2 separate regions of the Homo sapiens genome follow, and region 2 is reported to be linked to region 1. The links are microRNA targets in miRTarBase. Many come from high-throughput screens and were not tested one by one. Region 1 holds a microRNA gene; the other region holds the end of a gene's coding sequence.

Evidence for each region. Region 1 holds the annotated microRNA hsa-miR-3660 (ACUGACAGGAGAGCAUUUUGA, at 2,245-2,265, shown strand). A microRNA usually pairs through its seed, bases 2 to 8, with sites in the 3' UTR of a target mRNA and lowers its output. Matches are read on the target gene's strand: a 7mer-m8 pairs with bases 2 to 8, a 7mer-A1 pairs with bases 2 to 7 and ends in A, and an 8mer does both.
Region 2: miRTarBase lists ZNF776 as a target of hsa-miR-3660. The part of its 3' UTR that is shown has no 7-base or 8-base seed match.

The regions. Positions count from the first base shown.
Region 1 is chr5:90,015,370-90,018,905 of GRCh38, reverse strand. MIR3660 (microRNA 3660) reads left to right here and starts at 2,186; the gene lies at 2,186-2,285.
Region 2 is chr19:57,754,147-57,757,146 of GRCh38, forward strand. ZNF776 (zinc finger protein 776) reads left to right here. Exons shown (of 3, transcript NM_173632.4): 3 at 1-3,000. The coding sequence ends at 541. Among named protein-coding and RNA genes, the nearest start is that of ZNF776, 8.8 kb to the left of the region's middle.

The DNA of each region.
Region 1 (3,536 bases):
TCTAGCAGCATTGTCAATTGGCTCCTCATTGTGGTTCTTGCAACACTTTCAAACAGAAAAATGGTGCTAAGTTTTCAGATGCTTCCACTAAACTTTAGTGGGAGATGATAGGGCAGCCCATTTAGATTTTGTGGAGCCTAAAGATCATGCAATTGTGGAAGTGTTTTTAATGGAAAATAATAACTATGAATTTAAAAACTGCTAGCATCCCTGCTAGGTTCTTGCAAGGGAGTCATTTAGGGGAAGAGCCCTAAATTTACATTAGCTTCTAGGTAAATCACCTACTGCTTCTTGGCATGCCCCACCACTCTTTTCAGCGTATCTTTCACAGAGTATGTTCTCAATACACATTTGTTGATGTGAATAGGAGTTAGAGAATTATTATAGATGCCACACTATTGTACATAGACAAAAGTGTTAGTCACAGTTCCCAGTGATCCCCATATTGCAGTAATGTGGAAATATAAATTTGACAGCATGTTAAATATAAAGGATAAAATCAACCCGTGATTTTTCTTCAGACACCCATTATAGCCCCTTGATGTAGAGACTACAAAGAGAATACACCTGGCTCTAACAAAACTTACTTCATTCTGGCTAGCCTTACAATTTGAGATGTTCCGACACTAGGTTCTCTTTTTATGTTCTTACTCTCTAAAATTTTTCTAGTGGAAATGGAGAAGTTGGTTGTCATTTCATTGCTACAATTAAAATTGATCACAGATTTTAATCATGATTACCATTTTGATGGTTAAAGAAAAGCGACTTGGTCATCTCAATAAGAAATACTTTTCAAACTCTTTTATGTTCAGTTTGAGACACCTGAAGATTAAGAGTCTATCAGAACATTCCCAGCCAGTTTGAGCCCTGTCACTAAATACTAACAACAACAAAAAAAAAGTAACAAAAAAAAAAGTTTCCTGTATTATGAAATCCAGAGAGGTAAAGTCTTATTGTAGGTCTTGATTGCCAAAAAAAAAAAAAAAAAAAAAAAAAAAAAACAACCAGCAAAAATGTGAGGGAAATAATACTTTCTGGTGTGCTAAAAGTGACTATGAAGATCAAACTCCTTTAAAATCAAGGAGGGTCTGTGTTTGTGTCAGTCAGCTGCTGTTTTCCTCATTGGAAAAGATTCTTACTTTGAAAACTTAGGTTTCACCAAGCTATTCTGCTACAGTCACCACGGCTTTAATGATTGCCCTTTCCTCAAGTCTATTCTTGTTTACTCCTCAACAGAAAGAACTTTAGATTAGTGTATGTATCTCCATCTTTTCGTGGCTACTGAACCTCCTTTTCTCCTGAACACCTTGTTGAGAACAATTTAAGAGTCTGGCTTTATACTTCCTCTGCAATAAAGAACAAAATGTTCCCGGCATGATAATTCTACTTGGGAATGGATAAGTTCTCATATGCTTAAATTCTGAAAGGTACGTGAGATGGTCTGTTCTAAATGACAGGTTGCCATGGTTACATCCTTCTGTGGCTCACATGGGGATAGGGCCAATTATCAAGTTTTGTTTGGTTGATTTTAAGTAGTTTGTTACCTGGATACTCAACAAATAAGAAAACTGGGGGGAAAAAAGACTTGTTTTCTTCTTCCCTAGAAAGGAAGCAGTCATTGTTGGGGGGAAAGCCCTTAAATTCCAAACAACATGGTAAATTATTTAGTTCAGATAGAGTTTCTAAATTGTTGACTTTATTTCGGGACTAGCATAAGGCCTGTGAACTAAGATAGCTTTAAATGCTATGAATTGGATTTTTTGTTAGCTCTGTTGATCCTATAATATTTGTGTTAAGTAATTCATTCCCCTCCTCTTTTCCAGATTTGTCTGGTGCTTTTCAAATGCGTGTGTGTGTGTGTGTGTGTGTGTATTTTAAGTTAGTCCTTTTGTGAGTTTTGCTGCTCGGCCTCATTCCTCCCTCCCATGGTGGAAGTAAGATTGTTAATTAATGATATTCCAGAGGCAATTTCTGGAGTGACTATTGGAAAACCCTTCTTAATTAACAAAATGATAAATTCCCCACTGCAGCAGTGCTGCAAGTGAAGTTCATCTGTGTCATTCAAAATCTATGATTTTAAAACATTCTCTGACATTTTTTTGAGGATATTGGGCATTTAAAGTCTGGATCTTTTATCAAAGTTTCCGTAGCCAGCTGGAGAAGGAGAAATGCAGAGTGAAAAGGAGAAAGAAGAACTGGACAAAATTAAAATGCTCTTCTGTCATTGTAATAGTTCATATGGGCACTGACAGGAGAGCATTTTGACTTTGTCAAGTGTGTCTGCTACTCATTTATTCCATCTCCTGCTTGTTACCGAAGTTTCAGATTAAATGTAAAGATATGAATGTATTGCCATAATAAATTTATAAGTGGATATTTAAAGAGCAAAGATTTGAATGACACAAATGAACCTCGGTATAGCAGTAAAGTGGACAGGATTTGCAGAAAGATGCCACAGAGTCAGAAATGACTGCTGGAATCGCCTTAATTAAAAAAAAAAAAAAAAAAAAAAACTAAAAAAACTTGAGCTTCATAAGCCGCCATAGAAGGTGTCTAATGTGAAATTAGGCTTACTTTACATTATTTATGCCACTTTAAAACGATGTAATAAAAGCTTTCAAAAATCTGATTAAGCTGTATTATTCAAATACAAGGCACTTACTTAAGCAATGGAAAAGCTAAGCTGTTAAATTTGGGGGCAGGGAGTAAGATTCTAGACAAAGTTAAAGCAGCATGTTTTTAAAAATGTATGGTTTCTTTTTAAGATATCTAGAAAATACAATTAACTTTTTGAAATCATATTTAGTTGAGTGAATAGTAATCCCAATGTAGTAAACTGTAGAGATAACACTTTCTAAGGATGCCTTATCTTACTTCCCACAAGAGGCTTAGGGTTCCTTTAAATGTCATGGGAAAACTGCATAACCTAAGATACTCCTGTAGGGTTTGCATAACACTGGTATGCATAATAAGAAAGAAAGCAATGTGAGGGGGCACCCAGCTTCTATGACCTGATGTGTGGTGAGGACCCAGAGCACAGGGCTGAGAAGAAGCAATGGGGAGTTAAAATGAGGACATGGGGATAAATTATTTGACATGATCCTGAGCAGACCTGACTTTTGTAATGACACTCAAACAGCAGATAACCCTGAAGGCAATCTGAAAAAGAAGAATACAGTGGTCACACTAGCAGATAGGAAAGAGATGAGTAAGCTTTTCTGAATTGTCTGAATCACTACTGAAAAGCACGTCCTTCGACTGTGAACACCACTTCTCTTTTCTTCTCATGTCTGCTGCCCTTCGGCTAATACAGTGTAAGAATTCATTTTGTTTATCTGCTCCAACACAGAATAACTCCAGTGAGGATAAAGTTATAAGGATTGTAAGGAAGAGGGAAAGAAAAATGTATACAAAAATAACCATGGAAGTTTCAGAATAATAGCATGAGAAGAAAAAATTTGTTTAGGTTGGTTTTCTGATATTATCCAAATAAATATTACTTTCAAAATCATAATATCTGCCTTGAGCTTAAATGG
Region 2 (3,000 bases), not on the chromosome of region 1:
GCGAGTTCACACTGGAGAAAGACCTTATCAGTGTGGAGAATGTGGGAAATCGTTTAATCACAAGTGCAACCTCATTCAGCATCAGCGAGTTCACACTGGAGAAAGACCTTTTGAGTGTACGGCATGTGGGAAGTTATTTAGGAGCAACTCCCACCTAAAGGAACACCAGAGAGTTCACACTGGAGAAAGACCCTATGAGTGTAAAGAATGTAGGAAATCATTTAGGTACAAGTCACACCTCACTGAACACCAGAGAGTTCACACTGGAGAAAGGCCATATGAGTGTAGAGAATGTGGGAAATGTTTTCATCAAAAGGGCAGTCTCATTCAACATCAGCAGATCCACTCTGGAGAAAGGCCACATGAGTGTGGAGAATGTGGGAAATGTTTTCATCAAAAGGGCAGTCTCATTCGACATCAGCAGATTCACTCTGGAGAAAGGCCACATGAGTGTGGAGAATGTGGAAAGTGTTTTCGTCAAAAGGGAAACCTCATTAAACATCAACGAGTTCACACGGGAGAAAGACATCATGAATGTTGAAAATTTGGCAGATCTGTTGGTAAAAAGAGCACCCTCATTCAACATTCGTGAGATCACACTGGAAAGCACTTATGAGTATGGAGAATGTGCAAAATCATCTAGCCAAAAGGTTGGCCTCATTCAACAATAGCAAGATCACACTGGGGAAAGGCTTTCTGAGTGTAGAGAATGTATGAAATCCTGTACATAGAAGTTTTGCCTCACCAAATACCAGAAGGGTCACACTGGAGAAAGACCCTATAGTTATGGGGAATTTGGGAAATTACCTAACAAGAAGTCCCACCTCACTGAACACTACTGAGTTCACAGTTGAGAAAGGCCATATGACTGTAAGGAATTTGTAAAATTATTTAGCCAGAAGAGCTGCATTACTATTCATCAGATAATTTACAATGGAGAAAGGCCACATAATAATTTCTCACATAATAAATGTGAGAAATCATTTCCGTACAGCTCTGCGCTCCATGTTCGTAAGAGTTCACACTGGACAAAGCCTTATGAGAGCAGCGAGTAGAAAATCCTTTGTGGGAAAACTCTGGTTTCATTAAACACAGGAGAGTTCATGCTAGAGAAAGGCCTCAACAGTGTAGCAAATATGGAAAGACATTCACTAGAAGCTCTGCCCTGCAAGTTCACACTAGAGAAAGCCCTTCTCAGTGAAGTAAATTTGGAAAATTGATTAGTCAAACCTCTATGCTCCTTCAAAATCAGAGTTCACACTGGATCAAGGCTTTATGGTGTGACAAATATGGCACATTCTTTATCTAAATGTCTAACATATTATGCACAGACAAGCTCCTGCTGTGGAAGTGCCTTTTGAGTGCAGAGCATTTGCGAGGGCTTCACTCTTCTTTCACTGGATACCAGAATGTTGACAGGAGAAAAATAACATAGATGTGTGGGAATATTACTTCTTGTCCAGTGTAACTGTGGGAGAGAGCCCTTATGAGGACACCATCAACCTATATTGAATGTCATATGTCCAGTAGCTGCATAAATTCCAGGTATATGGGAGCTGTATTGCATTTCTTATCCTGCGTATGTCCTTGCCAGATTTATTTCATTCTTAGGTCTCTGGCAAAAGCCATTTCATCTCTACCACTTGGCAGGTACCTACAGTGCATCACTCATGCACTCCATCATATTCCAGAAAAAAAGTTCAAGTTGTCTCCCATTCAGCAGTGGTATTTTTGAGTAGCCTCTGCACTCGTTCCTTTCTCATTTCTCTATGAAGAGTTAGGCCATGGACCTGACTCAGTTCTGGCCTAGAGCAGAAGTGTCCAATCTTTTGGCTTTCCTGGTCCACATTGGAAGAAGAATTGTCTTGTGCCGCATATGAAATACATTAACACTAATGATAGCTGATGAACTTTTTTAAAAAATCACACAAAAACCCTCATAATGTTTTAAGAAAGTTTACAAATTTGTGTTGGGCTGCATTCAAAGCTGTCCTGAGATACATGCGGCCCACAAGCTGCGGGTTGGACCAGCTTGGCCTAGAGAATTTTTCTGATTACTTGACAAGATGGGCTGTCTTTCCTAGGAATCTCATGATTGTCATGATTCTTAAAATGGAATTTTCCAGCCTCTTAACTCACCAACCCAAGTACAAGCTGCCTCTCATTGTTCTGGTTTCTGCTATGATGAAGTCCTTATTTAAGCTTCCTTCAATCTTGGGAATTGTATTGACTGTATTGTGTGAATTGTATACTCACTGCATTGTGTGGCTTAGATACAACATGGTTCTGGTACCATGAAGGATTCTGGTACCATGAAAGTTTGTTGGGGTTACTAAACTGTGTGACTCTTAGGGAACAGTATGAAGGCAGAATATAGCTCTGCATTTGTGGCCTAGTTTGGATGGCTGCCTAAGGCCTCCAAATAAAGACTTCAGGGCTTTGTGATCTTTATTTTTAGATGAAATAGTGCAATAATATGTGTTTTCATAAATCAACCTGAGTAGGGGACAGTTTTAGTGACACACTTTGGTGCTTCTGAGAACAGCACAAAATTATTCTCTTGTTTATAATGGATATTGCATTCTGCTCAGTACTGGTGAGGGAAATCTGTTCTCAAGTCCTACAGTGCATTCATGTGTCCTGAAGTCCAGAATTCTGTAGGATAGTGTCCTACGTTATAAGCCTGGAGAAAGAAATCATAATTCTTTAATTTTTATTTTTTTAGGGAAATGATGTCACTCTGAAACTCAGGCTGGAATACACTGGCATGGTCATACCTCACTGCGGCCTCAAACTCCTGGGCTCAAGTGATCCTCCTGCCTCAGCCTCCCGAGTACCTGAGATTAGCCCAGGTAATTTAAGAATTTTTTATAGAGATAGGGTTTTGCTATTTTACCCTGACTGATGTTCAACTCCTGGCCTCAAGTAATCCTCTAGCATACGCCCTTGAAAGCACTAGGATTACAGGTGTGAGCCACCATGCCCAGCCCAAAAATAATT